3 separate regions of the Homo sapiens genome follow, and all the other regions are reported to be linked to region 2. The links are microRNA targets in miRTarBase. Many come from high-throughput screens and were not tested one by one. Region 2 holds a microRNA gene; each other region holds the end of a gene's coding sequence.

The links. Region 2 holds the annotated microRNA hsa-miR-192-5p (CUGACCUAUGAAUUGACAGCC, at 3,809-3,829, opposite strand). A microRNA usually pairs through its seed, bases 2 to 8, with sites in the 3' UTR of a target mRNA and lowers its output. Matches are read on the target gene's strand: a 7mer-m8 pairs with bases 2 to 8, a 7mer-A1 pairs with bases 2 to 7 and ends in A, and an 8mer does both.
Region 1: the mRNA of BCORL1 is a reported target of hsa-miR-192-5p. The part of its 3' UTR that is shown has no 7-base or 8-base seed match.
Region 3: the mRNA of CCNE1 is a reported target of hsa-miR-192-5p. The part of its 3' UTR that is shown has no 7-base or 8-base seed match.

Annotation. Positions count from the first base shown.
Region 1 is chrX:130,054,042-130,064,525 of GRCh38, forward strand. It overlaps BCORL1 (BCL6 corepressor like 1), which reads left to right. Exons shown (of 14, transcript NM_001379451.1): 14 at 1,813-4,030. The coding sequence ends at 2,095. It overlaps ELF4 (E74 like ETS transcription factor 4), which reads right to left. Exons shown (of 9, transcript NM_001421.4): 9 at 9,914-10,484. Among named protein-coding and RNA genes, the nearest start is that of ELF4, 51 kb to the right of the region's middle. RefSeq lists silencers at 6,188-6,447, 6,468-6,767, 6,788-6,857.
Region 2 is chr11:64,887,395-64,897,878 of GRCh38, forward strand. MIR192 (microRNA 192) reads right to left here and starts at 3,852; the gene lies at 3,743-3,852. ATG2A (autophagy related 2A) reads right to left here. Exons shown (of 41, transcript NM_015104.3): 35 at 10,445-10,484; 36 at 10,277-10,349; 37 at 10,018-10,100; 38 at 9,354-9,475; 39 at 9,068-9,222; 40 at 7,896-8,048; 41 at 7,152-7,815. The coding sequence ends at 7,579. MIR194-2HG (MIR194-2 host gene) reads right to left here and starts at 6,055. Exons shown (of 3, transcript NR_133640.1): 1 at 6,017-6,055; 2 at 5,196-5,432; 3 at 1,064-1,946. MIR194-2 (microRNA 194-2) reads right to left here and starts at 4,045; the gene lies at 3,961-4,045. RefSeq lists an enhancer at 1-568 and a silencer at 402-761.
Region 3 is chr19:29,821,231-29,831,714 of GRCh38, reverse strand. CCNE1 (cyclin E1) reads right to left here. Exons shown (of 12, transcript NM_001238.4): 8 at 9,898-9,993; 9 at 9,585-9,719; 10 at 9,364-9,475; 11 at 9,112-9,269; 12 at 7,403-8,060. The coding sequence ends at 7,938. Among named protein-coding and RNA genes, the nearest start is that of CCNE1, 14 kb to the right of the region's middle.

The sequences.
Region 1 (10,484 bases), not on the chromosome of region 2:
CTATAAACATGTCTTAAACAGCTGCACCAGGTCAAACCCTGGGGACCTTCAAAGAATCCACCATCTAGTGCAGTAGACAGACAAGTATATAATTAACTCTAATAAAAGACAAAATGTCCTAAGCAGATTTATTATAAAAAACTCCAACAGTTTCAGAAGGGTGTCAAATGCAAAAAGTTCCAGTCCACCCTGAGCCCCCATTGCTATGCTGCAGAGTGAACCACAGTTTAAGGTTCTTTTGCAACCCTTTCAGAAATGGGTTTTGTTAGTAGTATTACAATAGGGATGTGAATCAAATGCCACGAGACCATGGGAGATGGAAGAACAATGAGTTACACCGGGGGAAGGTTTCACAGGTGATACAGTATCTACCTGAGCTGGGCCTGGAAGGAGAGAAGGATGGAGCAAGGCACTGAAACATACAAGTTCAGAAAGTAGGGGGAGTCCTTTATCATGTGGCTGGTGCTTGGTAGGGTGGGGGATACAATGTGGGGTGTGTGTGTGTGTGAGAGAGAGACAGAGAAAGAGAGAGACTGGGTGGACATTGGGCTGAAGAGGTTAGAAGGTCTCATATAATATCATGCTAGTGGCCGGGCATGGTGGCTCACACCTGTAATCCCAGCGCTTTGGGAGGCTGAGGCGGGTGGATCATTTGACGTCAGGAGTTTGAGACCAACCTGGCCAACATGGTGAAACCCCATCTCTACTAAAATACAAAAATTAGCCAGGCGTGGTCGTGGGTGCCTGTAATCCCAGCTACTCAGGAGGCTGAGACAGGAGAATTGCTTGAACCTGGGAGGTGGAGGTTGCAGTGAGCCGAGATTGCGCCACTGCACTCCAGCCTAGAGACTCCGTCTTGGAAAAAGAAAAAAAAGAAAAGAAAACTGTAATGGTAACAGAAGATCCAGTGAGGGTGGGTGGGGGTGCAGAAGAGTGACTCTTGGCAAAGGGAAACCGGTTAGGAGGCTGACAAGACAGAGCCCAGGCCAGAAGTGGCAAAGGCTGGAGCTGGGGTAGTGGAATAGTGAGGAGGGAAAACCCTGTGAACTGGGACCACTAATGTGGGGAGGCAGCGTTTCTTCCCGCATTAGTCAATGTAAGCGTTTGGCCCGGGATCGGCCTCTCCAGCACCCCTCCCAGCTGTCCCCAGGCTGCCACCCAGTCGGGTGTGCTCAGCAAAGTCAGACTCCACTTTCTGTAATGTGAGCTCTGGCCCTGCAGAAACGATGGTGCTGCTGCTGGAGAAAAAACTTGTCTAATGCATTCCAGAGCCAAAGAGAAATGCCTTTTGGATTACCCGCAGTTTAGGCCTTTCTCCACGGCTCCCCCTCTGCTGGGGAAGATCTTGGAGAGCAAGGAGGCCAGGGAAGCAAGAGTAAGAACAGGAGAAGGGAAGGCAGCCAGGGTTGGCAGGGGCGGGAGTCGGAGGAAAGACTGGTCCCAGCAGATGGCAAATGCCAGGTCACAGGGGCGCAGGCTAAGTCCCCAAGAAGCCTGCTAAGAGTTTTAGGTTCTAGAATGCCCCTTTGCCTCCTGTTTGTGTTATTTTGGAAGAGGTGGTCACTGATTGCGTGCTCACCATTTAGCTGAAAGCCGGGCCAGGCATTGCAGGGGACAGGAGAAGACATTTGCCTCAGCTATACCCAAGGAGCCTGTGGTTTAGCAGGGGACGGGGGAGCCAGACTGGCAGTGAGTTATAATGGGAGACATTGATGGTCGTGCAGCCTTTGTGGGCTTTGCAGAGTGTTCTGGGTCGGTGCCCCCACCGCTTCCTCCAGCCTCCTTCAATAACTCCCATCCTTGCCTTTGCAGGCCCTGCAACTGGTTCCTCTTTTCCGATGTCTTGAAGAGGCTGAAGCTTTCCTCGAGGATCTTTCAGGCCCGGTTCCCGCACTTTGAAATCACCACCATGCCCAAGGCCGAGTTCTACAGGCAGGTGGCCTCCAGTCAGCTGCTGACCCCTGCCGAGAGGCCTGGAGGCTTGGACGACAGATCCCCCCCAGGCTCCTCTGAGACTGTGGAGCTGGTGCGGTACGAGCCAGACCTACTTCGGCTCCTAGGGTCCGAGGTGGAATTCCAGTCTTGCAACAGTTGACCGGGAAAACAGCCCCTCCTCTTCTTTCTCCTTCCGAGTTCGCCCTTCCCCCACCTCCTTGTCTTTCCCCGACCGAGCACCAGACTGCAGAATGAGGCAATAATACGGACCAACAAGAAGCCGCCTTATCAATGCCAGCATTAGCGACTGGACTGTTTTTGTTTTTTTGGTTACAATTAGTTCTCATCTCCCTGTCGTCGTCATTGTTATCGTGGTTGCTGATGGGGGTGGAAAGTTGAACTCCATGTCTGAGGACAAGAGGTCCCGGGGGTGGTGGGAGGTGGCGCCGGGGTCCCTTGGACTGGCCTCCTTGTTCATGACCAAGACCAAACCTGGGCCCTGGATGGCCTTGGCCTGTCCCGAGGAGAAATGAGAAAATCCCAGATCTCTGAGCGCCCCCCAACTCCATTCCCCTGTGTTCTTCTGTCTTCTGTAGTATTTATTTTATTAGTATTTAATTTGTATTGTTTCATTGGTTTCTGATAAGTCTGTATCACTGTGACGATTTGAGACAACTTGTTGTATTGAGGGACTTTCTGTACCTCCTTTTCTTTTTCTTTGTTGATGAGCTCTGACAAAGCTATTCCCTGGTGTTTTTTTCCCCCACTGGGGAGGGGGTGAGGTGGAATGGGGTGGGGGAACATGGACTTGTGACTAACGAAGCTGGTTGCTGCTGGCCCAGGGCTGGGGGCTTGGGGGTAAATCCTGAGGCTTTGGTGCTCCCCCACCCACCCATTCCCGCCCTTTGCAGCAGCCCCGCTATCTTGAGATTAGTGTTGACAGGGAGGGGAGGATTGTGAGGTGAGGGGTTAATAAGTTACTCTAATAAAGGAGCGTGGAGAAGGGATCTGAGGGGTGAGGGTGGCCCCCCTCCTCACGCCTTCTTCACTGCCCCCCTCAGAGTGCACAATACGAGTTTGTTCCTGCCTCCACTCTCCCACCCCGTTCTGGCCTCCCTGTCTCAAGATACTGAGCCTCTCACCTCCCAGCCCTCAGCCACCCCCATCCCTGCCCCTTCTGAGACTCACAGCACCCCTTTCCTTCCTCTCCTCCCACCTCCTCCCTCAGCCCCTCATTCTCCTTGGGAATCTGCAGAGGGCTCTGGGACTCACTGCCGGATGTGAAATCCAGGCGTCAGCTGTTTCCTAGGCAAGGGCAGGAAAGTGGTCTCCAGCCCTTGCTCCACTCATGCCTGGGGGCCTGGGGCTGAGTGGTATCCCTACCTGGCCTCCCCCTGGCCTCTGGGCCTCCAGCGCTGGGTTTGTCGAGTGAGAGAGAGAGAGGAGCTTGGGTTGCTTCCCTGTCCCCGCCCCCTCTGTGGCATTGTCCCTCCCACTCTTATTTTTCTACCAATTGCTATTTTTCCGAACAATCCTTGTAGAGTATGTACCATCCAAAGGCAGGAGGGCCTCGCCGTGGCCGGCTCTGGTTGGAGATGGTACAGTTTTATTGTACAGGTGCTAAAACAACAACAACAAAAAAGAAAATGGAAAAAAAAAAGATTAAAAAAAAAAGGAAAAAAAAAAAGCCAGTTTGAGGATGGGACAATCTGTTCTCTAGAGGCTCCTGAGCCATGCGGGAGCATTGGTGGTTATTTTCTTTGTATTGTGTTTGTTCTTTGTTCCTGGGGGGGAAGTTCTCGGCCCCCTTCTGTAGGACTGCTCCCCACCCCCACCATACTGCCCAGTTGGTTTTGAACAGTTGTTTTCCCTTTTTAAGAAAAAAAAATACATATATATATACATATATATATATAAAGTTGAGGGGTTTTGGACTTTAATTTGTTGGTTTTGTTGGGGTTCCTGGTATTGTGTAGTTTATTTCATGTTCTGTTTGCCTTTCCTTTTTTCGCATTTGGGTGTATATTCTGGCTGCCCTTTATGTTTCATTTTAAGCAACTGGCTGTGGAGTCAAAAACACTTGCATACTGAAAAACCTGTGTCAGGGCTTCTGTCTCCCGTCTCTCTTTTTCTCTCCCGTCTCTCTTTTTCTCTCCTCCCCTTTGGGACTTTTTGGTGGTTTCAGAAGGTGGGCATTGTGATTCAGTAAATGGGGAGCCCCCGCCATCCTGCTTTGCAGCTGTGGGTCCCAAGGGGTACGATGAATAAAGGCAAGGTGGAGTGGCTAGTGAACATTGGGTCACGATCTGGAAAGAAAAAGAAAGGGGCAAATCCTGGGGGCGGGGCCAGTGGGGGCAAATGGAGCATCTGGCTCCTGTTGCTTTGGTTTGGGGTTGAAGCAGGTGCCTGGGCAGTCCTTGTTTACATAGGAGTAGCAGGGTTGGAGGAAGTAGCCTTCTCTGTGGTGGCTGTGGGAATAAGCCTCCTTAAGGAAGTCCCCTGCTTGCCCTAGGCCACCCTGCCGAGGTGGCATCTGGCTGCATGGCCTCATCACTGCCCTCACTGTTGTGCCAGTGCTCCCCACCCACGGTGCAGGCCTTCCATGGTTCTGTTTTCCTGCCACCGAGCTACCATGAAGGCAAGATGCCCATCCTGGATTTTGCAGTTTTTCCTCCCACTTCTGAAAAACAGTGGTAGAAGCTATGATTCTTGTGATTGCTGGTTCCAGAATGCACCAGTGACTGAGAGGAAGAGGATGTTCGAGAGGCCTGGGATGAGGCCCTTTGAAGCTCTATTCTCTTAGGGCTTCTCACTGTGGCTTTCGAGTCTGGAGAGCCCTGTTAGAGAGTGTAGAGGCGAAGGGATCTGTGCGTCTGGCTGGCTGGAGTCCAGCCGTCCTCAGGAGTGAACTCTAAGCTGCTGTCTTTGCTCAAGCCTCAGAAGCTTGGCTCGACCCAGGTCCAAGCATCATCCTCTTTGAACCATAGCATTAATCTTCCTCATTGGCCGTCCTCTCCCCACTTTCTGATCCCAAGGCCCTATGCAATAGCCACCTTTGTCAGATTCCCAAACAAGCCCACAGTGGTTCTGAATTCAGGTCGATCCTGTGCTTGGAACTTGCAGTTAAGTCAAGAAATCTGACATGTTGATAGGTTATAAAGCCATGTGGTGAGTATAAGAATTCAACTAGTCCCAGGATGCTATGGGAGCTCAGAAGCATGGGCAAGGGCCCTGGGAACACATCCTAGAAGAGGTGATGCCTAGTTGATACTTTAAAAAGTAGAAATGCAGGAATTAGAGGTGGCAGGGAAGAGTGTTTGAACTGAGAGGACAATCTGAGCAAAGGCTTGGATACAAGGGGAGTTAAAAGCAAAACCAAACAGCAGATTGTTTTATTGCTTTTGGGGTTCTTTGCCCACGGCTTACCTGGAGTCCCACTGCCCTTCTGCCAGGTTGGAAAGATCAAGGCAGGAAGTATGGGCCGTGGCATTAAATCTACATCCCCGGTCAGGATTGGGGTGAGGATGGCTTGGTGGCCTCTTATTAAATGATCTCCCAGTCCTTTTAGTATGGTGTAGAGGAAAGAGCCAGCACCACTCCTAACTACCTAGGCTGACCTTGGGCGAGAACCTAATCTTTCCCAGCCTTAATTGCTCCATCAGCCAAATGGAGGCCAATGTACCCACCTACTGACAGAGCATCACACTGAGGACCATAAAGATCTGTTTAGCCAAAATTAGTTCCTCCTTCATGCCGAGCTCACGAACCTATGGTTAATGAGGGTCTTATCAGAACGCTCTTTGGGCTTGAAAGAGAGGCTCTGTTCAAGTCTTGGTGGGAGGAGGGATAGTCTCCGCATCCCTATTTGGGGTAGGTGGGGTTGGGGGCGGTGGTGAATGGGGCAGTAAACTCCTGCTCGGTCCATACTCTAACCCAATAACCGGGAGGCCTGGTGGGTGTTTAACTGTGTCCTGCCCATGCAAAGACCAGTGTGTGTGTGTTTGGGAAGGGTGGGGTCCGCCCCAGGGGCGTCTGCTCAACTGCTGGGCAGGGGGACGCGAAGTGCTCGGGCCTTCTGGATCCCGCAGCAGGATCCGGGCCGGGGCTCCACTCGTTTCCCTAGCGCTCCGGCTGCCACCGCGCGGGGGTCGGCCGAGCCGCAGCGTCCGGCCTCTGGGGGCGACGTCTTTAGGCCCCGCGCCGGTCCTTGGGAGCCGGGCTCGTGCGGCGGACGGTCAGGTCCCTCCGCTAGCAAACGGCTGTCTGGGGCGCCTCGATCGCTCTCCCGCTTCACGGTAGAAGGCGGCGGCGCGCGAGGGGAGGGGAGGGCAGGCCGGGTGACTGCGACTCCGCGTGCTCACCTGCTGGTCCGCGAGGCTGAGGGAGGGGGCGCCGGGGGCGGGGCCAGAGCGCGGCTGGCCAATGGGGGAGCGCATTCGGCGGCCGGCTAAATTCCCCCTGGAAAGTGAAGGGGGCTGGGGTCGAGGGGAAAGTTCGAAGCTCCGGAGCAGCGGAGGGCTTTGGTGGCGGCCAGAACCATCCGGGGACAGTTGCAGGCGCAGGGGCAAGATCGGGGGACCGGAAGACGCCAGCCGCGGCCGCGGCCGCCTCCGCCAGGGACGGTAGGCCCAACCCTGGCTGCCCCTCCCTTCCCGGGCCCCGCCGGGCCACTCTCCCGCCATCGCTGGCTCGACAGCGCCACCTGCTGGACGTCGGCCTCCACGTCCGGCGCGCCGGGGCCCGAAGTTCTCGGAGGCTGGGACCTCAGTCTGGGAGGGGAAGGAGCTCACTCACCCCAGGTCCAGCGGCTTCAGAGCTGGAGGCAACTGCCTCTTTTGGAGTACAAGATGGGATCAGAAAGGCCTGTGACCGTCAGAATAACTTCTTGTCCCGCCCCACCCACCGGAGCTGACACTTCCACCGCACAGCCCCACCCAGGGGTGAGGAAATAGTGGCGAGGCAGTCCCTGGAAGCGGGCAGCAGCAAAGGGCGGGAGTTCGGGAGTTGCACGTGGCACCTGGTGACAGCAACGCACAGCTGGCAAGCAGCCCTGGGCTCCTCATGGACCCTGTGATCCGGGGATGTCTGTTAACACTCCAGGGGCAAAGGAAGTAGCCGCCTGCAGTGTTATAGGAGCGGGCAGAAAGCTGCCTTAGCTCCCAAGTGTGGATTGTCCTCCTCCCTCTCCTCTTGCCTGCCATAGCATAGGGCAGAAGTCTCAGAATTAAAATCAGGACCAGTTCCTTCTTTCAATAAGCATTTATTAAGAACCTACTGTGTGCTAGGCACTAGGGATATATCAGTGACTAACACACAGTCCCTGTCCTTGAGGAGCTCACAGCCTATTGGCGGGGAACCCTACATAAACACGTAATTAAAGAACTGTACTGTGCTAAGTGCTACCATAAGAGGTATTTACAAAGTGCTGTGAGGTGGCTCAGGGCTGTAATCCCAGCACCTTGGGAGGCTGAGGTGGGCGGATCACTTGAGGTCAAGAGTTCGAGACCAGCCTGGCTAACATGGTGAAACCCGTTCTCTACTAAAAATACAAAAATTAGCCGGGCGTGGTGGCACGCAGCTGTAGTCACAGCTACTTGGGAGGCTGAGGCAGGAGAACCGCTTGAACTCGGGAGGCAGAGGCTGCAGTGACCCAAGATCGCACCACTGCGCTCCAGCCTGGGCAACGGAGGGAGACTCTATCTCAAAAAAATAAAGAAAACAAAGTGCTGTGGGAACCCAGAGGAGGGAGTAACATATCAGCTGCTGGGAGATGAGGGTCATCTCTTGACTCCTGACTCCATTAAACCAAGAAAAGGCAGAGACTTACTGCCACATGACTCTGGTTAAAATGAACCTGTCTCCTGAGGTTCTCCTCTAGCCCTCTCCCATAACTGTATCAGCACAGGTTAATTGGTTTAGCTAGTTTCACACTTGGAGTAGGAAAGAAACTGGACAGGGAAGTTGCTTTAGGGGTAGAGGATGTTCAAAATAGTAACAAATTTTGAGTGCTAAGATGGGGGGGTGGGGTTGGGGATACCATGAGGGCACTGAGCCAGGGAGGGCAGGCCCAGAGCAGTGGAGCACCTGGGGTGAGTGCCTGTGCAGAGGGGAGGTCAGAGGTCACCTACCTCAAAGTTTGGTCCCCATCTCCCACCGGCTCCATCAGTAACCATTACCTTGATCCTTTGTACTGTGCCATGTTACGTGGTTGATACAGTCCCTCCCACTCCTCAAGGAGGTAATGTGCTAATTGGGGACACTAAATAGGTACAGGTCATTGAAGATTTAAGTAACAGTTTGCATTATAATAGATGTCACAGGGTGTTCATGATCAGTTGCTGAAAGAGTGGCAATTGCAATAAGTTTTAAATAACTCACTTAGGACAGACTGGTCTGGGGAGGCAGAGTCCATGAATCGAGTCTTGAAGGAGGGACACAATTTAATTGGTACTAGCAGGATAGGAAGGACATTCTGATTGAGTGGAACCAATCAGATCTTGAAGGATGGATTGTACTTTTTTTCTTTTCTTTTTTTTTTTTTTTTTTTTTGAGACAGTCTTGCTTTGATCACCCAGGTACAATCTCGACTCACTGCAAATTCCACCTCCAGGTTCAAGGGATTCTCTGCCTCAGCCTCCCCAGTAGCTGGGATTATAGGTGCGTGCCACCAAGCCCGGTTAATTTTTGTATTTTTAGTAGAGATGGGGTTTCGCCATATTGGCCATGTTGGTCTCCAACTCCTGACCTCAGGTGATCCGCCCACCTCAGCTTCCCAAAGTGCTGGGATCACAGGCGTGAGCCACTGTGCCTGGCTGTGGATGGATTTTCTTTCTTTCCTTTTCGTTTCTTTTTTTTTTTTTTTTTTTTTTCAAGATGGAGTCTCACTCTGTCGCCAGGCTGGAGTGCAGTGGCGCGATCTCGGCTCATTGCAACCTCTGCCTCCCGGGTTGAAGTGTTTCTCCTGCCTCAGCCTCCCGAGTAGCTGGGACTACAGGCACACACCACCATGCCCAGCTAATTTTTGTATTTTTAGTGGAGACGGGGTTTCACCATGTTGGCCAGGATGATCTCGATCTCTTGACCTCGTGATCTGCCTGCCTCGGCCTCACAAAGTGCTCGGATTACAGGCATGAGCCACCGCGCATGGCCAATGGATTGTATTTCTAAAGGAAAAGATACATAGAAGGGAAGAATATTCATTAAGAAAACACAGGAGTGTGTAAATAATGTTGAGTTTGTCTGTATTGCCTAGAGCAGGTAAAAGATAAATGGAGGATCTTGGTTTCCAGGTTTAAAATGCTTAGAATATATGTAGTAGATAATAAGAGCAAAAGCACAGAGTTTGGAAATTGTAAACAGAGGCATGTTCACAGGCCAGCAAATCCATCAGTTTGACTGGAGCAGTGCCTTGGGGTATGAGTGGTGGCAGAAGGAGCAGGGTGAGTTGACTGGGGAAGTCAGTTAAGACCCAAAGGTGAAGGGTCTTGATGGCAGGCCAAGGACTTGGGGCTTTGTCCTGAAGACAGGGCTGATGCTAAGCTTAAAATACTTCCGGAGCTACTGCCCTGAGCCCAAGTGCTCCCCCATCCCTATTCCAGGACCCCTGGACTGGCTTCAGCAACGAAAGGGCTAAGTTTAGAAAGGATTAGAGATTAAGTATTTTGAGTATCACCCCTACCTGTAGGCCAGGAGGAGTCAGTGAGGGCTTTTTATCAAAGGGCAAATGGGAGGGGTTGAGACAGATCACGCTGGGAGCCCCTGTGTGTCTTGGGTAGTTTGAACTAGGGTGGAGGCTTCTGGGAATGTGGAAGAAAGGCGAGGTTTTACGGACATTGCAAACCACAAGCTGGACTTCGGGAGACGGGAGAGGGGGATGGGGGTGAAGTGAAGGCAACGATCAGACAGCTCTGAAATTTCAAATTTAAGAGGTCAGGAAAACAGTGGCACCATTAACAGAAATAGGCAAGTCGTGACGGCCTTTTTGTTTGCTTGATTTTTATTATTATTATTATTATTATTATTATTATTATTATTATACTTTAAGTTCTGGGATACATGTGCAGAACGTGCAGGTTTGTTACATAGGTATACATGTGCCATGGTGGTTTGCTGCACCCATCAACCCGTCATCTTGGAAAGGTTTTTTGTGAGCGTGGAAATAATTTAAAAATCCATTGTTGGCCAGCCGTGGTTGCTCACGCCTGTAATCCCAGCACTTTGGGAGGCCAAGGTGGGTGGATCACCTGAGGCCAGGAGTTCGAGACCAGCCTGGCCGAAATGGTGAAACCCTGGCTCTACTGAAAATACAAAAATTAGCTGGGCATGGTGGCATGTGCCTGTACTCCCAGCTACTCAGGAGGCTGAGGCAGGAGAATCACTTGAGCCTGGGAGGCAGAGGTTGCAGTGAACCGAGATTGCACCACTGCACTCCAGCCGACAGAGCAAGACTCTGACTCAAAAACAAACGAACAAACAAAAACATTGTTGATAGAGGGGCTATCTTTAAGGAGCTGACAAGCACCCACATGGAAATGTTCAGCAGATTGCTG
Region 2 (10,484 bases):
CTGCTGGAGAAGCACCCTGCAGTAGAATCTGTGCATTACAATACTCATTATAATCCCAACAGTGCTCATAATAACAGCGCTCATAATAACCCCAAGTGTTCTCTTCACTATACAGCAGTGAACAAGAGTGAAGAAGCTTCGGCTCCATCAACTGCATGAGACTCAGCCAGACACGGCACCGTGATTCCATTTACATTAATAACAAGAAAGCCAGACAAAATGCTCGCAGACTGTTTGGGAAAGTGTACGGGGTAGTAAATCCCAGAGAAAGGAGAGGAAGTGATTACCTTAACACTCAGAACTGTGCTGACCATGGGCGGGGGGGACCTGGAAGGGCATATTTGGGGGCTCTGCAGGTTGTTACATGGGGACTCATTGTGAATTCTATGAATATACATTATACAGTGATGTTTTATACACACCACAGCGGGAAGAGCCCCACCAGGGCCACCTTGGGTAAGGCAGTGCGCGCCTGGGACCCGCAACTGTGTGTAGGACGCTGGCACCTGGGCTGTGCCCTAGGCCCAGGACAGTGTCCTGGCCAGGCCAGGCGCAGTTCTAGGCGGCCCGGGGAAGGCGAACCCAGGGGCTGCTCCCCCAGGCCTTGGGAGCCGCGCGGTGGGGAGGGTTGGCCCCGCCCCGCTTGGGAGGGGTGCCCGGGGCGCCCCCTAGTGGTGGCCACCGGGAGTAAGCCTTGCAGAAGAGGAAGCTGTCCCCGCCCGCCCCGCGCCTCCGTCCGGTTTCTGCATCTTTGCCCCTGGCATTCCTTCCTCCTCCAGTGATCACGACCTGTTTCTGGGGTTCACCTCAGCAAACGCCGACCTCACACTCACCTCTCCCAGGGAGGCTTTACTCCTCCCCGCCTGGGCCTTCTCTCTCTGAGGCTGGCGTACGGTCAATCTGCACAACCTCTCAGGGCCTCTGTCAGCGTAGCGTTTCACACACGTGTGGTGTGGACGATGGGACAAAGACAATACTACTGAGGCCTCCCACCGCCAGCTCTGTGCTGACCGCCCCACTGTGTCTAGGCTCCCTCCCTAAGCAACTTTGCTCATGCACAAGGTCAGTCCTTCTGTGTGCATTTATTAAGTGCCTCCTTTGAGTCTGAGGCTACAGGAAAAAAGTCAGTGGCCGCCACTCCTGGGGGCTTTCAGGCTGGTGGGGGAAATAGCCCGGTGTGGGTGATGGGGCATGATGGGGGCGCTAACATCCCAGCCACAGAGCATCCAGGGAGCCAGTGAGTGGGGTAATGGGGGGCGGGGCGGGGGGCCAGGCAGGTGTCCGCGAGGGAGTGACCCTTGGGCAGGTCTTGAGGAGTTCTGAGAGGGGTTGGAGGTGAGACCCAGGCCAGGGAAATGTGCATGGGCCCAGGGCCTGCTGGGTAAAGGACACAGGTCAGTGGGCTCAAGGAGCTGGGGGAGGGTGCTGGATCCGCCTTGCTCATGCATTGGAACAGGTCTCCAATAGCCCTCGCAGGCCTTTGTGGGATCGCAGTGCTCTGCAGAGGCAGATGCAGGAGGACCCCCAGGGCAGGGTGGCTGCTGTCTGCTCCCCTTTCACCCTATGCCAGTGCTCTGAGTCTGAGGCCTGACAGCCCCAAGAGGGTTAGAGTCCAGGGCCCTACCATCCAGCCCATGTATCCTGAACACCTACTATGCTGGTGGGTGGGGGAAGCAGCCAGGGAGGATGAGTAAGTCATGGACCTTGCCCTCAAGGAGTCTGAAACTAGCACAGGATTAGATAAGCACACAGGGCTCCTTAACTCTGTAGGGAATGAGATAAGGGTGGCGGGAGAGGCCCACGAAGCCGGGGTGTGGGCAGAGAGGGGAGCAGCGCCTGCAGAGTCATGGGATGGTCTGCAGGGAGGGGTTGCTGAGCTGGGCCACGGCAGGGGCCAATCGGGGCCCAGGGATTCAGAGCAGCCAGGACAGTGTGAGCAGAGCTGCCTGTGGGAAGGGGAGAGAGACAGTGTCTTAGGGGCCAGATGTTTGTTGGCTGCCTACAGTCCCCAGGAGAAGGTCCAACTTGCTCTGTGACTTCAGCAAATGTGCACCCTCTCTGAGCCTGTGTCCTCCTGTCCCAAACAGGTTCATGATGGATGCCAGGAGGACCAGGTCCTGGATGTGCGTGCCCAGCAGACAGAAAGGGCTCAATAGCCAACGCCTGTTATTAAGCAATTTGACATTTATTCCTAGGTCTCTATTTCCCATTTTACAAATTTTATTTTGTAGTACCAGAAACCTTTTTATTCAAATGAAAAATTCTGACAGGGCACAGTGGCTCATGCCTGTAATCCCAGCAGTTTGGGGGGCTGAGGCAGGACTGCTTGAGGCCAGGAATTTGAGACCAGCCTGGGCAACATGGTGAAACCCCATCTCTACGAAAAATACAAAAATTAACCAGGCATGGTGGCACGTGCCTGTAGTCACAGCTATTTGGGAGGCTGAGATGGGAGGACTGTGTGAGCCCTGGCAGGTGGAGGCTGCAGCAAGCTGTGATTGTACCACTGCGCTCCAGCCTGGGTGACAAAGCGAGCAAGACCCTGTCTCAAAAAAAAAAAAAAAAAAAAAGGAAAATTTCCTCAGAACCCCGTTGTATAAGAAACAGGTGGGGCTGGGCGCGGTGGCTCACACCTATAATCCCGGCACTCTGGGAGGCCGAGGTGGGCAGATTATCTGAGGTCAGGAGTTCGAGACCAGCCTGGCCAACATGGTGAAACCCAGTCTCTACTAAAAACACAAAAATTAGCTGGGCATGGTGGTGCATGCCTGTAATCTCAGCTATTTGGGAGGCTGAGGCAGGAGAATCGCTTGAACCCAGGAGGCAGAGGTTGCAGTGAGCTGAGATCATGCCAGGAGGGGAGGCTTCCTCCTGGGAGGAAGCCTGTTGCATTCCAGCCTGGGCAACAGAGCAAGACTCTGTCTCAAAACAAACAAACAAACACCACAAAGAAATAGGTGGAAATGAGGCTGTTGTGGGAGGCGGGACAGGGGTGGGGTCAGCTGTCCTGTCCTGGGTTGGCTGCTCTTCCTCTACCAGCAGCTGGGGTCCTGGGCCCTCTTAGGAATCCTAGGGGCTGGAGAAGCTGCTCCACCAACCACAGGGCTGTGCTCCAGGGAGATGAGACTGGCAAAGGAGGGGAGAGTAGGAAGCAGATGGGGAGGCTGGCTCAGGGCCCCATCCTGGGTGGGGGGGCTCCAGCACAAACACTGGGCCTAGAGCACTCAGCCCCCCTTGGCCACACTGCATGTCGGTGGGTGCTTCCTCAGGGTGCAAGACAGAGGCTCAGGATTGGTTCAGCAAACATTTATTGGGCACGCGCCTGGGCTGGGAACTGAGCTCACAGATGGGGAGAGGAGCGAGACATAAGCAGAAACCAGCACCGGGGCTCCGAGAGGGCAGTGCTCTGCGGCAGCACTGTGTGGGGGTGCCCAGGTGGGGACTTAGAAGCTTCAATAAGGCCTTCTGGAGGCAGCAAATGCTTGGACAGAGCTTGAAAGGGTTAGTAAGAGTGAGCCTGGCAAATAAGCTAGGAAGAGTATTGCAGCCCAAGGGAACAGCATGGGCAAAGCATAGAGGTGCCACAGGGCAGGCAGGGCAGGGGCAGGACTGAAGCTGTTCAGGCTCATTCACGGGGAATGAGACAGAGGGAGGTGGGACCATGAGTGCTGCACTGGGGTCGCAGGATCTCTGCTGACTGCTGGACACCCCCGGCCCTCCCCTATCCCTGCAGGTCCTGGTGGCTGGCATTGAGGCGAACATACCTGTGACCTATGGAATTGGCAGCCAGAGGGGAGACGAGAGCACTGGCTGTCAATTCATAGGTCAGAGCCCTGTGCACTCGGTCTCGGCAGCCCACCGACAGCCCTCCACTACCCGCCACCATCTGGCCTGGGAGCGTCGCCACGGTAGTCCTGGCTGGTCTGCTGGCCAGCACCTGCCTCTCCTTCTTCGTGGGTACTGGCCCTCGCCCCAGATAACAGCAGCCCCACTGGAACCAGTGGGCACTTCCACATGGAGTTGCTGTTACAGGGGGCGGGAACCAATTGGAGACCGGGGCCCTGCCTGGCGTCCGCCTTCGGCAGGGCTCTGGAGAGTGTCCCATGCCCACTCACCTGGGCTCCCCAGTCTTCGTGGCCCCAGGTCCATGGTCTTTTCACCGAGGCTTCTTATCATCCGGGGCCCACACCTGGCGCCCCGTGTGCTGCCAGCACTCCTTCCTGGGCAAAGTCCAGGCTCAACCCCAAATCGGCCTCATAAAGCCGGGAGCGGCTCGGATTTACAACTCCTGGGCAGCCTTTGCCCGCTCTGATGACCCCACGCCCTCTGTCCCCAAGTTATTTTGTTTCCTTGTTTCTTTCCCAACCAGAGCTGGGCCTCAGTTTCAGGTTTGGCCACTGTCACCTCTGCCCTTTGCCCACCCTCCCTGCTGCAGCCATGGGGCAGAGAGACAGCAAGGGACAGCTGGCACTTGTCAGTCCCCAGGGACCTCCCAGTGCCTGATTTCATGAGGATGGCCTCGTATGGGAAGCTGAAGATGAGACTAAGAAGAAGTGTGGGGGGCTGTGTGGGGGAGGGCACAGAAAGAGGGATAGTGAGGCAGAGGGGCTGAGAGAGGAAGAGAAGAGTAAGGCCGAGGATGGCGGTGCACACCTGGCATCCCAGCACTTTGGGAGACCAAGGTGGGAGGATCTCTTGAGCCCAGGAGTGCAAGACCAGCCTGGGCAACACAGTGAGACCCCATCTCTACAAAAAATAAAAAATTAGCCTGGTGTGGTGATGCATGCCTGTGGTCCCAGCTACTCAAGAGGCTGAGGCGGGGGATCACTTGAGCCTGGGAGGTCGAGGCTCCAGTGAGCTGGGATTGTGCCACTGCACTCCAGCCTCAGTGACAAAGAAAGACCCTGTCTCAAATAAAAATAAGAGGAGCAGGTAGAGAACTAGAAAGGAACAGAGAAAACAAACAGGGATAGTGGATGACGAGGTGTAGGAAGGGGGACGACAGGGAACTGGAAAAGATGTAGATACACAAACCTGCCGCAGAACATGAGGAACAGGCTGTGAGCAGTGGCTCGCCTGGAAGGACGCTTAGGACCTCAGTGGCCTGGAAGACAGCAGGGGCCTGGGAGCTGGGTGACCTTGAGCAAGTAGCGTAACCTCTCTGAACCACTGTCCATATGTCAATCAGGACTTACGAGGCCACCCTGCACGCTGGGCTGGCCTGGTGGGAAGCATCCGCCCTGGGACCCTTGGGTCTCTCTCCGCTGTGGGGAGAGGAAGCAGCTGCTGGCCAGGGTCCCTGAGTGAGCCCAGGGCTCTGTGAGGCAGAGCTTCCTCTTGCAAAGCGTGTTCTCGTCCCTCCCAGACAGGTTCCGGTGACAGGTGCCAGTCCTGCAGAGACCCAGCAGGCATTTTGGGAGACTCCAAAGCTTCTGGAGAGAAAGGGGAGCTTTTAGAGTAGACTTGGGCCCTGCCCCCTTTGCCAGTGGTGCATACAGGCCTAGAGAGACAGAGGGGGCCGCCCAAGGTCACAGAGCAGGGCCCCAGGGCCTGTGCTGCCCCAACAACCTTCCCGAAGTGGCGTCCCCCCTTCTCAGGATGCAGTCAGGGTGGGATGGGGGATCCCTGGGCTGGAATCCTTCTGCCTGGGGGGACAGACCTGCGAAGGAAGACACCGTAGCTGGTGGCTGGCCCTCCACTCAGCCTGGCGGCCCTTCCCACAGAGGCCTGGGCGAGACCAGCCTCCTGCAGCGTGGTGTCCAAGTGCCCTGGCCTGGCAGAGACAGCGCCCGATCAGGAATCCTGGCTCCACAGCTCTGAGCGCTGATGCTAAGGCCCCCTTATCCCACAGTGGAAACCAAGGCACAGAGAGGAAGGGGCTCGTCCCGGCCACCCCATGGCTGTCCAGGTCCCTTTCTTCCTCAGGATTGGCCACCCTTCAGAGAGGTGCCTGGGTTCAGGAGCCTCCTAGGACAGGGAGGGCGGCAGGGGTCCTACCACTCAGGAAGCCTCTTACCTGAGTGCCGGGCTGGCCTTCGGGGCACAAGGAGGAAGTGGGGACACCCTGGGCCCAGGGCCTTTTGAGCCGTTGACCCAGCCCCTGGTGGTGGTTAATGATTATCCCACCACCGTCAATACTGATCACAAGTGCGGTTCGAAGGGCAGGAAGCCCTGGACTGTGCCCGGGCAGGGTGGGGCGGGTCCAGGAAGCATCAGGCTGGGCCCCATCTGCCTCTCCGGGTGGCATCAGCACCGAGTCTCCACAGCCCTGTCTCCTCCAGGGCCTCGCCCTCCTGGTCTCTTACCAGCCTGCTGCCCCAGCTGTCCGTGGGCAGCCAGGACCCCAGGGTCCCTCGGGACAAAGCTTCTGCTCTGTTCCCAGTACCCAGATCTCCCCCACTCAGAAGGGGCCACAGAGCAGGGCTGGGGGACCTTTGCTAACCCCAGAGGCCTGCGGAACCTAGCAAGGTGAGGGTTCCCTGATTCCCAACCCGAGCCTTGGTTTCCCCATGGACCCACCCACCTCTGTGCAGCGCCACTGGGAAGCAGGGCAGGGAGGAGCGCGATGGGAGCAGCTCACAAGAAACAAGATGTGTGGGGGGCAATGGGCGCTCCCTGGTCCTGTGTAAAGCTTTGTGCAGTGAGGGTTGGGATTCCGGCTGCAGCGCTGCTCCAGCACCCCTCCCCCCTCCAAGTGCTGGAGCTGGGACCCCAGATCAGAGTGGAAACCAAGGGGCCAAGGCCTGGGCCACCCCAAAAGCCCCCACTAGGGATGGTGAGAGCAACATCTAGAATGCCTCAGGCTCAGCCTTCCCCGAGTGGCCTCAAGTGACAACCAGGCAGGGTCAGCTGGGCTCCAAGGACCATCCCTCCCTCCCCTGGCAGCCCCACGTAGCTCCTGCCACATCAGGAGTGGGGCTGGAGTGGCAGCCTCCTGGGAGGGGCAAGGCAGAGCCCAGAGCCAGGGGAAGGCGTGCAGGGCTGGGTGCCTCTGGGTCCCCCTGTGCCCTGATCTGCTGGGCAAGGCCAGGAGGCATGGCGACCCCTGGTGGTGACATGGGAGGTGCTGGGTGCAGAGGTGGGATCTGGGGCGGGGCCAAGGTCAAGGCTGAGGCCAGGGTTCACAGGGACAGAGGATCTGAGAGGGGGGCTGGCGGTGGGCAGTTTATTCCACTTCATGCAGACACTGACCCACGCACTCACGGAGCTTAAAAATAATACATCGAACCACACGGATATCATCCCCTCCTCCCCCCAGACACAGAAAGACACTTGGCTGAGTGGGATGGGGTCCGAGGGTCCAAAAGCCTCCGTCCTGGGAGAAGGCAGCAGTGTGGGCCCAGGTCGGGGGAGGGGCAGTGTCCTTTCTCCCCGGAGGAAAAGTGCAGAGCCAGGGCTAAGGCCCCAAGGCAGGGAGGCCCCCCTCTCACAGCAGATTGGCAACGGGCAGGCTGGGAAGGCGTCCTTCACAGTGGCCATCCCCTGAAGGGCCAGGCCGGGCCGGGCCCGTGGGCTGCAGCTCTTGGGAGGCTCAGGAGCATGGTGGGCAGCACCCTCTGGGTGCCGGGCACCCCAGGCTCAGTCTTGGGCACTGTCCGAGCGCCACTTGAGGGCGTGGTCCTTGTGGGCGTCGGGGACAATCTGGTTGCGCATGCCCCCGAGCAGGCTGGACGTGGCCTCCGTGGCCAGGATGAGCGGCTTCACCACAGTCGGGGGCAGCTGGCGGATCACGCCCCCCACGGCGCCCGTCAGCCCCTTCTGCTCATGGCCCCGCGATGCCACGTCACAGATGGTCTGAGCTGTATCCAAGATGCCCTGTGGAAGCCAGAGGTCAGGGCGGGGTCTGTGTGAGGAGATGGGCATGGGGGACTGGGGCAGGGCGGGGGCCTGGTCACCTCTCGCACTGTGTCGTAGGCCTTGGCCACACCCTCCCGCAGGTCGGCAGGCTGCTGGCCCCTGCGCAGCCTCCGCGCAGAGCGCTTATCCTGCAGGGAGCGGGAGACGGGGGCTGCCGGGGACAGGATGTCATACACGGTCTCAGCTGTGGCCTGGGGGACATGGGAGCACTGGATGAGGACAGCTGGCTGGGGCACACGTCAGCCCCAGGCCCCCAGGACAGTCTGAGACCCCACCAGCCCTCAGCCTCCCTGCCTGTCACTGTGCTGGCCTAGGGGGTCCTGCTCAGCCTCACTCCCCACTTCCTCCCACTCTTCCTCCCCTTCCTAGGCACCTGCCACTCTGCTGAGGGAACCTAGGAACGTGGGACTCCTCAGGGGACTTTCCTAAAGTCTTCTCAACCCAAACCTCTCTTCCTGCTGACCACCACATTCAGCAGGTTCCACATGGCTGCCGCAGCTGCACGCCTGAGACTGACCGCTCCTTGCCTGGCCCCCCAGACGCCCCTGCCAGATGGTCAGAGGCCCATCCTTCCTTCTGTCTGCCAGATCCTCTGCCCAGCATCTCACCTGGCATCACTCTTTCCCACCTGACTGAACACTCCCGGGGGCTCCCTGGTGCCCATGCATCCCTCCCACCTCCCCTGGAGCCCTGCCCTCTGTCCTGTTGGGGTCTGAGCTTGCAGGTTCCAGAATGCACCATGCACCTGCACTCACCCCTTAGCCGCCTAGGACCATCGATCCCCTACAGAATTCATCTGACAACTGCCCACGAGACTGGCTCCCCAGCTTCCCTGGGGTCCTTCTGGCCTAGCGAAGCGTATGGCCTGAATGAACCAGGGCAGCCTCTGCGCCTCAGATTCTTAGTCTGCAAACACAGCCGTCCTCCACCCCCCTTTACAAGACATGCCATGAGCAGGAGACACAGTGGGCTCTGAAGGCCTGGGGGGCACTCCCGCTCCTGCATGGGAGCCCCTGTGGGCCTCGGGAGACCTGGCTTGGAGGTCCCAGGCAAGTCACTTAGCCTCTCCGTGGCTGTTTCTCTATAAAGTAGGGCTGTCATACCCAGACTGCCCACTCTGAGGAGCTTTGAGGACAGAACCAGGGAGCTGTGGTGCAGAGGGCTCCAGCTGCTCTGTCCTGCACAGCCCAGATACAGGGCACCCACTCACCTGGATAGCCTGTACCAACCGGTTGCTGAGTTCCAGGGCGGCAGAGGCTGTGGATGAGCCAAAGGAGGCAGCCCCTCGCTGCAGCCCCCGCATGAGGCGGCCATCCTTCCTGTACTGCTCAATGGGCAGCCACAGCAGGTCCCGGAACCCTTGGACTAGGGGGAAGGAGCGCTCAGAGACACCCGAGGCTGCCCTGCCCCCACCTCCTCCTCTTATTCCCAATGGCAGCTTCTAGGTTGCCCAAGGGTAAAAGCAGTTTCGAGGGCTTCCAAACCTAGACACTCACAGAGCTGGACAACCGAGTGCATGGGGCCCACGCCTCCCAGCAGGCCGGGCAGCTGGTTCTTGCGGATGTCCTGCAGCCACTCGTTGAGGGCATAGCCCAGCACCTTGTCCACACCCAGGAGCCTGGCAGGGCAGGGAGGTGAGGAGGCAGAAGGTGAGGCAGAGCCACACATGGAGGGATTGTGGGGTCAGGAGGACTCAGTACCCCTGTGGCAAGTACTGTGGGCACTCTACCCTCCCTGTGGTCCCACCCAGTCATGTGCAGAGGGACTGTGTCCTTTTTTTTTTTTTTTAGATGGAGTCTTGCTCCGTTGCCCAGGCTGGAGTGAAGTGGTGCGATCTTGGCTCACTGCAACCGCCTCCCAGGTTCAAGCAGTTCTCCTGCCTCAGCCTCCTGAGTAGCTGGGATTACATGTGTATGCCACCACGCCTGGCTAATTTTTGTATTTTTAGTAGAGACGGGGGGGTTTCACCATGTTGGTCAGGCTGGTCTCGAATGCCTGAATGTGTGAGCCATCATGCCCAGCCAACTGCGTCCTTTTTACAGAGGAGAAACTGAGGCCCTGAGAAGGGTGATGACTTGGCCAAGGCCACACAACCAGTCAGGACCAGAACAGAAGGAAGATCAGGGACCCTGGAGAGAGGCTGGGGTGCTGGGGACTCACCCGTGCCTGCAACAGAGCCGCTTTAGCTTCAGCTCGGAGCAGTTGAGTTGGGCCAGGCCGATGAGGAGGCCAGCAAAAGTGCCCTGGGAGAGGGAGGGGGTCCAGGTTTACCCAATGGGACTCAGGGAGCTAGCTAGCCCATGGGAGCCACTGGAGAGCGCCCTGGCTGCTAACAGTGCCTGGATGCAAGACCTGGCCCCCAGAGGGACTCAGCCACAGCTGACCCCACATGGCCACCCCATCCGACCGCCCCACTTACCACCTGGTCCATCGTGACGTGCTTGCCATGGTAATCCAGCCAGATGGGGACCTCAGACGTGAAGCGGAACTCTCTGGGTAGGGGAGCAGGAAGAGGGGGTTCTTTGCTCACTGGCCTGGCCCCCAGCAATCTGGCCCAGGGCCCCCCACCCGCAGTCCAGCAGCCTACCTGAAGTAGATGGGCTGCTGGTCAGGAGGGGAGGGGCTGT
Region 3 (10,484 bases), not on the chromosome of region 2:
AGCTGATTTTACGAATGTCCTCATTGCCTGCCTGCTTGTCCTCCACACACTACACACTCATTTTCATTTTCTTTTTTGATTTTTTGTTTGTTTGTTTTGAGATAGGGTCTCGTTCTGTTGCACAGGCTGGAGTACAGTGGTGTGATCATGCCTCACTGCAGCCTCAAACCCCTGGGCTCAAGCGATACTTCCCATCTCAGCCTCCCAATAGCTGGGATTACAGGTGCACACCACCACGCCCGACTTGCACAGTCATTTTCTTACGGCACAAAGACACATAACTCTGTACTTGTTCATCAACCTCTTCCTCCAAACCGGCTCTGAGCAAGTCACTCCTGTCTTACAAACACCGGCTTCCTGCTGCGGGGGAGACCACACCCATCTTAGTTGACGGCAAAAGCCCCTTGTGATGTGGCCTTCCTCTACCCTATTTGTGAGGGCTTTTGTGACTGCTGGAGAGCATTCCACAGCCCCACCTCCCGAGCTTGAGTCCTGCTGCTGCTCTGCTCCTAGAGTGCCACCTTTTCATTTCATACCAGTGCCCTCCGGGGACTCCAGGGCTTCCCCGGTCTCCCAGGCTCCCTTGAGTTCATGTCTCCAGGACTGGCAGTGTACACTTAGCAGGGACTCCATCGAGGGCACCTCACTCACCAACCCCAAGGAAGCCAGCATTTGACTTGAACCGCACTGCATAATCAGATACCACACAACTTTTGGAATTGGCATTGATCAGGAAAATGATTTAAAAGGTGGGGGATGCTGTTTATTGAATAAAGGATAGTGTTGCCCTCCCATGTGAGGCTCCCAGGAAAGAGTACCTGGTAAGCCTATGCAACTGAGTACATTAGAGTCTTCTGAAGTTAAATTTGGAATTGGGACGAGGTAGGAAAAAATCTGTGCTCATTGGATACAGACTGCAATTGTCTGTCGGTGCAGGAACTGAAGTATCTGCAGCAAATTATATTTAAGACTCTATTGTCGCAGGCGGATTAGCTAATGCTTGATTTTAAGTATAGGCTTCTAATGCTATTACTCCTGGTTAACTCTACCTGGCAGGTAAACTTGTGGAACAAATGACTGCATTGCTTGAATAACATATTTGATCAAACAGGACAATTCTTTCAAAAATTGAGTTCTCTGTGGCAATTTGAGACCTGTAATCAGCAAATTAGATGATTACAGCAGGGATAAAAATAGTCTTCTAACAATGTCCAAGGTATAAATGTGATTTGAATTTCAAAATGTGGAACATGTGGTAGGAAAATGCACGGTTGGGTAAATATGACTAGACATTATCAGATTTGATTTCTCTCTCTAGCCCTGCTCAGAGCTAGAGCCTAATTTTGCCCAAATAAACTCCAATCTCGTTTGTGTCTGAGTTAGAGGATGGACACGTATTGGGTGCCATGCTCTGAATCTTAAAGGGCTCCATGGCTCTACCTGCCTTAGAAACTAAAAGTCAGTGTGAACCTCTGCATCATGTATTTATCACATGGTACCAAATAACCATCATGAAAGAGTAAGCTGTCCGTGTTCCACACAGGGAAGACGGCATTGGAAAACCCTTGACTCCCACCACCTGAGGACCAGGGTTTTTTTGTTGTTGTTGTCGTCAGGCACAGTGGGCAGAGAAATGACAACAACTCTGGCGGACTCTAGCAAGTGAATTCTTTTTTGGGAGACAGGGTCTCACTCTGACGCTTAGGCTGGAGTGCAGTGGCACAGTCATGGCTCACTGCAGCCTCGGCCTCCCAGGCTCAGGTGATTCTCCCATCTCAGCCTCCTGGGTAGCTGGTACTACAGGCATGCGCCACCACAAAAAAATTTAAATTTTTAAATTTTTTGTAGAGATGGAGTTTTGCCATATTGCCCAGGCCGGTCTTGAACTCCTGAGCTCAGGCAATCTGCCCACCTTGGCCTCCCAAAGTGCTGGGACTAGAGGCATAAGCCACTGTGCCTGGCCGCAAGTGAATTCTGTGAGCTGAGGCGGGATATGAGGATATGGTCTGCTCAACCACAGTTCAGGGTCTCCAGGGTTGGTGAATCACTCGCTTTTTCTCCATCTCTAACCCGAGAGTTAGATCAGGGGCCACATCACCTCCTTTCTCTGGTCCTTCTTGCTAACACATCTCCTCAGGACATCTGTTCACCCAAGTTGACTGAGCTGCCATTTTCACCCCAGTGTCTCTTGTGGCCTCATCTGGCTTTAGCTGAATAGCAGAACATAAGCGACTTGGTCAAGGGGTATTTGCAGCCAATGAGAGAGAGGCCAAAGCAGGGATTACTAGCAAGTGGAAAAAGCTCCTCTTACAGGGGAATTTTGATTTCTACTTACTAGCAGCTCTTAGGGTTCCTGAGTATAGACATGATTGATTAATATGGATGTCATTTACCCATTCAGGACTTAGCCTTTATTAGCACCAATAATTAAGAGCTGCCTGTGACAACACTGCCACTTAAAAAGCTTTGACTTCCAGAAACACAGCATTCCAACAAGTTACATATAAGGCATTCTTATTTCAGCATATTCTAGCACCCTCTCTAATACGGTGGGTGGCTAAATGACCTATGAATTAATATTTACCTCAAATGTGTTTGTTTTTTTTTAGGTGTCACCCAGGCTGGAGTGCAGTGGCATGATCTCAGCTCACCACAACGTCTGCCTACTGGGTTCAAGCGATTCTCCTGCCTCAGCCTCCTGAGTAGCTGGGACTGCAGGCGCCCAGCACGACACCTGGCTAATTTTTTGTACTTTAGTAGAAATGAGGTTTCACCATGTTGGCCAAGCTGGTCTTGATCTCCTGACTTCAAGTGATCCTCCCACCTCGAATCTCCCTAAATGCTGGGATTACAGGCCTCAGCCATTGTGCCTAGCCTCAAACGTACTTTCAAATTTGCTGTTACCTCAATGTGTCAAGCTCTCAAATTTATGAAACTTTGGAAATAGAAATTTTTTAGTGCCATCTTTTTGCTTACAAAATGCCAAATGTAGGCCGGGCACACTGGCTCACACCTGTAATCCCAGCACTTTGGGAGGCCAAGGCAGGTGGATCACCTGAGGTCAGGAGTTCGAGACCAGCCTGGCCAACATGGTGAAACCCCCTCTCTACTAAAACTACAAAAATCAGCAGGGCGTGGTGGTGGGTGCCTGTAGTCTCAGCTACTCGGGAGGCTAAGGCAGGAGAATCGCTTGAACCTGGGAGGCGGAGGTTGCAGTGAGCCGAGATCATGCCACTGCACTCCAGCCTGGGTGACAGAGTGAGACTCCATCTCCAAAAAAAAAAAAAAAAAAGAAAATGCTAAATGTAGGCCGGGCAAGGTGGCTTACGCCTGTAATCCCAGCACTCTGGGAGGCTGAGGTAGGTGGATTACCCAAGGTCTGGAGTTCGAGACCAGCCTGGCCAACATGGTGAAACCCCGTCTCTACTAAAAATACAAAAAAAAATTAGCCGGGCATGGGCAGGTGCCTGTAATCCCAGCTTCTCAGGAGGCTGAGGCAGGATAATCACTTGAACCTGGGAAGCAAAGGTTGCAGATAAGGCTTGTCTCAAGCTCCTGGCTTTAAGTGATCTGCCCAACTCAGCCTCCCAAAGTGTGGGGATTACAGGTGTGAGCCACCACGCCCAGCCAAAAACTCACTGCTTTTTAAGACTAGAACATCTCTGCCTAAAGTGAAGAAATAACTGGCTAGTCCTATCATTTGACTAAATACCATTACATGTAGATTTACAATGCGTTTATTAGGATAACTGTAGTATTAAAACTTGCCAGAGGGCCGGGTGCGGTGGCTCACACCTGTAATCCCAGCACTTTGGGAGGCTGAGGCGGGCGGATCACAAGGTCAGGAGTTCGAGACCAGCCTGGCCAACATGGTGAAACCCCGTCTTTACTAAAAATACAAAAATTAGCCGGGTGTGGTGGTACGCGCCTGTAGTCCCAGCTACTCAGGAGGCTGAGGCAGGAGAATTGCTTGAACCCAGGAGGCAGAAGTTACAGTGAGCTGAGATCGCGCCATTGCCCTCCAACCTGGGTGACAAAGTGAGACTCCATCTCAAAAAAATAAAATAAAATAAAAATAAATAAATAAATAAATAAAACTTGCCAGAAAAGCCGGCGCAATTGCTCATGCCTGTAATCCCATCACTTTGGGAGGCCGAGGAGGGAGGATCACCTGAGGTCAGGAGTTCGAGACCAGCCTGGCCAACATGGAGAAACCCCGTCTCTACTAAAAATACAAAATCAGCTGGGTGTGGTGGCGCCTGCCTGTAGTCCCACCTACTCAGGAGGCTGAGGCTGGAGAATGCCTTGAACTTGGTAGGTGGAGGTTGCAGTGAGCCGAGATTGTGCCACTGCACTTCAGCCTGGCAACAGAGCGAGACTCCGTCTCAAAAAAAAAAAAAAAAAAAAAAATCTGCCAGAACTACATCAATGTCAAAAGTAAAGTCTCTCCAACTTCATACAAATATGGTTACAGATTTTATTTTATTCTTTTTGAGATGGAATCTTGCTCTGTCGCCCAGACTGTACTGCCATGGTGCCATCTTGGCTCACTGCGTATGGTTACGAATTTCAAATGGCTGCTTTTTTCTTTAGATTTTTGCCAAATGAGATAAAATACCAAGTTGAAAATAAGCAGTATTTATTTGTTCATTCACCCTTCCTTGTATGCACTAGCACACGTGATGAAGCACTGTTAGTCAAACACAAGACTCCAAAAGACCACCATTTGAAGAATGTTCAGTAAAAAGTCATGTGAGTGGCCGGATGCGGTGGCTCACGCCTGCAATCCCAGCACTTTGGGAGGCCGAGGCAGGCAGATCACCTGAGGTCAGGAGTTCAAGACCAGCCTGGCCAACATGATGAAACCCCATCTCTACTAAAAATACAAAAATCAGCCGGGTGTGGTGGCGGGCACCTGTAATCTCAGCTACTTGGGAGACTTAGGTGGGAGAATCTTGAACAGGGGGAAGGTGGAGGTTGCGGTGAGCCAAGATTGTGCCACTGCACTCCAGCCTAGGTGACAGAGCGAGACTCCCTCTCAAAAAAAAAAAAAAAAAAAAAAAAAATCATGTGAGCGGCCAGACGTGGTGGCTCACGCCTGTAATCCCAACACTTTGGGAGGCTGAGGTGGGCAGATCACGAGGTCAGGAGTTCGAGACCAGCCTGGCCAACATGGTGAACCGCCGTCTCTACTAAAAGTACAAAAACAAAGGTCACATGAGCTGTACACGAGGCCTGTAAGTGGGCAGCAATGATTAGCAAGGCACTTGGTGACTCCATCAGTGCTCAGCGAACAGGCTGCATCATGCGCTCAGCTGACATATGACTCTACTTCGCATTTTTTTTTTTTTTTTTGAGATGGAGTTTTGCTCTTGTTGCCCAGACTGGAGTGCAATGATGCGATCTCAGCTCACCGCAACCTCCGCCTCCCAGATTCAAGCGATTCTCCTGCCTCAGCCTCACGAGTAGCTAGGATTATAAGCATGTGCCACCACACCTGGCTAATTTTTTTTTTTTTTTTTGTATTTTTAGTAGAAATGGGGTTTCTCCATGTTGGTCAGGCTTGTTTTGTACTCCCAACCTCAGGTGATCCGCCCACCTCGGCCTCCCAAAGTGCTGGGATTACAGGCGTGAGCCACTGCGCCCTGACTTTTTTTTTTTTTTTTTTTTTTTATGAGATAGAGTCTCACTCCGTCACCCAGGCTGGAGTGCAGTGGCACGATCTCGGCTCACTGCAACTGCTGCCTCCTGGTTCAAGTGATTCTCCTGCCTCAGCCACCCCACTAGCTGGGATTACAGATGTGTGCCACCACGCCTGGCTAATTTTCTTTTCTTTTCTTTTTTTTTGAGATGGAGTTTTGCTCTTGTTGCCCAGGCTGGAGTGCAGTGGTGCAATCTCGGCTCACTGCAACCTCTGCCTCCCGGGTTCAAGGGATTCTCCTGCCTCAGCCTCCCGAGTAGCTGGGATTATAAACATGTGCCACTACACCCAGCTAATTTTGTATTTTTAGTAGAGATGGGGTTTTTCCATGTTGGTCAGGCTGGTCTTGAATTCCCAACCTCAGGTGATCTGCCTGCCTTGGGTCCCAAAGTGCTGGGATTACAGGCGTGAACCACCATGCCCAGCCTTAATTTTTGCATTTTTACTACAGATGGGGTTTCACCATGTTGGGTAGGCTGGTCTCCAACTCCTGACCTCAAGTGATCTGCCCAACTCAGCCTCCCAAAGTGCTAGGATTACAAGCGTGAGCCACACGCCCAGCCACATTTTCTTCTTTTCCTTTTTTTTTTTTTTGAGACAGTCTCGCTCTGTTGCCCAGGCTGGAGTGGTGGCGCGATCTCAGCACACTGCAAGCTCCGCCTCCTGGGTTCATGCCATTCTCCTGCCTCAGCCTCCTAGGTAGCTGGGACTACAGGTGCCCGCCACCATGCCTGGCTAATTTTTCTATTTTTAGTAGAGACGGAGTTTCACTGTTAGCCAGGATGGTCTCGATTTCCTGACCTTGTGATCCGCCCACCTTGGCCTCCCAAAGTGCTAGGATTACAGGCATGAGCCACCGCACCCAGCCTCATTTTCTTCTTAAAAGCAGTTTTAGGCTACTATGTTAAAAGTTCTCCAAATAAAAATTCACTTATTCTTTAGGCTAAGATTTCGGTAAGGGGAAAAAAAAAAAAGCATTAAATCATGCTAATTCCAGATTCCTTATGGCCTTTAACCAGTCCTAGGAAGGAAGTTACACCTAGGAATCCTCTTCGGTGTGGACATTACCTCATCACTACTACTACTGATGGCCAACAAACCTGGTGTGAGCAGCCACCAGTGCAGGGCGTGGTGAGACAAATACCAGGTGGACTCCTCACTTCCAGCTCAGGGGGCACCAGGAGGCAGACAGGCTGCACCTGAAGCCCACGTCTAAAGTTTCCTTTCCATCAAATACATTGAAAAATGTATTTGACCAAAAGAGTTAAGACTCAAGGCTGGGTGTGGTGGCTCACACCTGTAATCCCAGCACTTTGGAAGGCTGAGATGGGCAGATCACCTGAGGTCAGGAGTTTGAGACCAGCCTGGCCAACATGGCAAAACCCCATCTCCACTAAAAATACAAAAATTAGCTGGGTGTGGTGGCACACGCCTGTAGTCCCAGCTACTTAGGAGGCTGAGGCAGGAGAATCGCTTAAACCCGGGAGGCAGAGGCTGCAGTGAGCCAAGATTGTGCCCCTGCACTCCAGCCTTGGTGACAGAGCGAGACCCTGTCCCTGTCTCAAAAAAAAAAAAAAAAAAAAAAAAAAAAAAGAAAGACTTGAGCCTCAAGAAGTATGAAGTCAAAAAACAGAAGTTGATATAACCACAATTAAAGCTGACTGCTACCTTAAGTTACCAGACATAGCTCATAAAACCAGCTGTCTCAAAAACAGTATTATCTTTATTAAAAAATGGATAGATATAGCAGCACTTACAAAACAGTTCATCAAAGGCATTGTACACTGTCAACTGATAATGTGGAGAGGGCAGCCCCCTGCCCAGCTGGCTATGGGCTCTGCACAACGCTTGCCCGCAACCACCTGCTCCACTTGGTACAACGGAGCCCAGAACACCTGCGAGGAGAGCCACGCCACCGTGGCCCTCCACAGCTTCAAGCTTTTGTTGTTGTGGGAGTCCCTTAGGTCAAGTAGCACCTTCCATAGCAGCATCGGGAGCACGCACTGGTGTCTGGAGGTGGCTGGTGTACTTGACCCACTTATTTAAAAAAAACCTATAAGCATTCAATAAAAAACACTTTGCCCTGTTTGATGCCATCCACAGAAATACTTCTGTTGTGGAAGAAACACTCTTCCATTCAGATATCTGTAAAAGCAAACGCACGCCTCCGCTGCAACAGACAGAAGAGAACGTGGAGCAGGCGCGCAACTGTCTTTGGTGGAGAAGGATGGGGTGGTCACGCCATTTCCGGCCCGCTGCTCTGCTTCTTACCGCTCTGTGGCGGGGTGAGGAGCCCACTGGGGAGAGGAGAAGCCCTATTTTGTTCAGACAACATGGCTTTCTTTGCTCGGGCTTTGTCCTGTTGGTAAGAATAAAAGGGACAACACATTAGAGTAGAACATATCCTTGGGCTTCAATTACCATAGGCTTTTTCTTTTTTAATTTTTAAATTTTTTTTTTTTCTCAAGATGGAGACTTGCTTTCTCATCCAGACTGTAGTACAGTGGTGGGATCTCGGCTTACTGCAACTTCCACTTCCAGGGTTCAACCGATTCTCCCGCCTCAGCCTCCCAAGTAGAGTAGCTGAGATTATAGGCACCCGCCACCATGTCCAGCTAATTTTTGTATTTTTCATAGAGACAGGGTTTCGCCATTTTGGCCTGGCTAGTCTTGAACTCCTGATATCAGGCGATCTGCCCGCCTCCGCCTCCCAAAGTGCTGGGACTACAGACATGTGCCACCATGCCTGGCTAGTTTTTAAATTTTTTAGGGACAGGGTCTCCCTATGTTGTCCAGGCTAGTCTCAAACTTCTGAGCTTAAGCAGTCCTTCTGCCTTGGCCTCCAAAAGCCACTGTGTCTGGCCACTATGTCTTTTTCTACGGAGGTGAGTGAAAGAAAAAAAAATATCAAAGAGCACTTTAAAACTCTATAGTCTATATGATAGTGAGATACAGCATCAATTTGCCAGGATTTTTCTTTTTCAATTAATTAAAATTGGAGTTTTTCAAGGATATTTGGGGCCTGCCTGAAGAAAAGTGAACAGGTTATTTAGGCAGTTTTTTTTTTTTTGAGACATAGTTTCGCTCTGTTGCCCAGGCTGGAGTGCAGTGGCGTGATCTCAACGCACTGCAACCTCCGCCTCCCGGGTTCAGATGATTCTCCTGCCTTAGCCTCTCGAGTAGCTGGGACTACAGGTGCCCACCACCATAGCCGGCTAATTTTTTTATTTTTAGTAGAGACAAGGTTTCACCATGTTGGCCAGGCTGGTCTTGAACTCCTGGCCTCAAGTGATCGGCCCACCTCGGCCTCCCAAAGTGCTGGGTTTACAGGCCTGAACCACCGCGGCTGGCCTATTTAGGCAGTTTTAAGAATTTGGCCAAGAAGGACTGAAAGAAGGAGCAGCACTGACCAGCAAATCCAAGCTGTCTCTGTGGGTCTGTATGTTGTGTGCATCTTCATCAGCGACGCCCCTGAAGTGCTTCAGTTTTGAGCTCCCCGTCTCCCTTATAACCATGGCAAATGGAACCATCCACTTGACACAGTTCTCTATGTCGCACCACTGATACCCTGCAGTGAAGACATCGTGGGCTTAATCTGAGGCTGACAACTGGATGTAAGCTTAGTACACCTTGTTTGTGCATGCACTGGAAAGCCAACTTACCTGAAACCTTTTGCATCAATTCAGATGACGAGAAATGATACAAGGCCGAAGCAGCAAGTATACCATAAGGAAATTCAAGGCAGTCAACATCCAGGACACAGAGATCCAACAGCTACGGAGAAGAAAAGAACGCTGAGATGGATGCCACCACACGCCTATTCTAGAGTTCCTCACTCCAGCTGCAGGGAAGGTGGCCCCACGGACGTGATGGAGCCACTTACCTCTGCAATCTGTATAAAGATTTGCTGGGGATACTGCGGCAGTAGCACTTCATGTAAGTCATTTAGATATGCAACCTGCATGTATACATTCAGCCAGGACACAATAGTCAGGGGACTTAAACGCCACTTAAGGGCCTAAAGGAAAACAGAGAGAAAAGAGACCGATGATTGAGAAAAGAAGTTCAAAATGCAGCCATGTTCCATGCCACAATGTGTCCAGCTGGAGAACACCTCCCAGAGGCACTCACACTTCAGGTGGAAAAGATCTGCCGTACGCATTTAAAAAATGGCCGGAAAATTCACTGGAACCCACCTTCATAATCATTAATTCCATGGTGAGAATTTCATCTCCTGAACAAGCTCCATCTGTCACATACGCAAACTGGTGCAACTTTGGAGGATAGATTTCCTGAAAGGAAATAAAAGATGGCACTAGCACCAAAGCCAATCTCTAACAGTCTCAATTTATAATGCATCCAAAATGACTTCTCAGTACCCTGGCATGGAAAGAGAGAGGGCGCACTGATGGAATTAACACAGAAGCCACACCAATGGTTGTAAAAAAAAAAAAAAAAAAAAAAAAGAACACAACTCCCACCCACCATTAAATAAATGGATGGAACTTTGACTCATTGTGGGTACTCTTGAAATATCCCCTTTTCAGTACCTTTAACACATTTGAAAGTTGGGCCCATATACCCTTTGATAATCATACACAAATTTTTAATCTTTTCTTTTTTCTTTTAGACAGAATTTCCCTCTGTTGCCCAGGCTGGAGTGCAGTGGTAGGATCTCGACTCACTGCAACCTCGGCCACCTGGGCTCCAGCAATTCTCTTGCCTCAGCCTCCCGAATAGCTGGGATTACAGGCACGTGCCACCACGCCTGGCTAATTTTTTG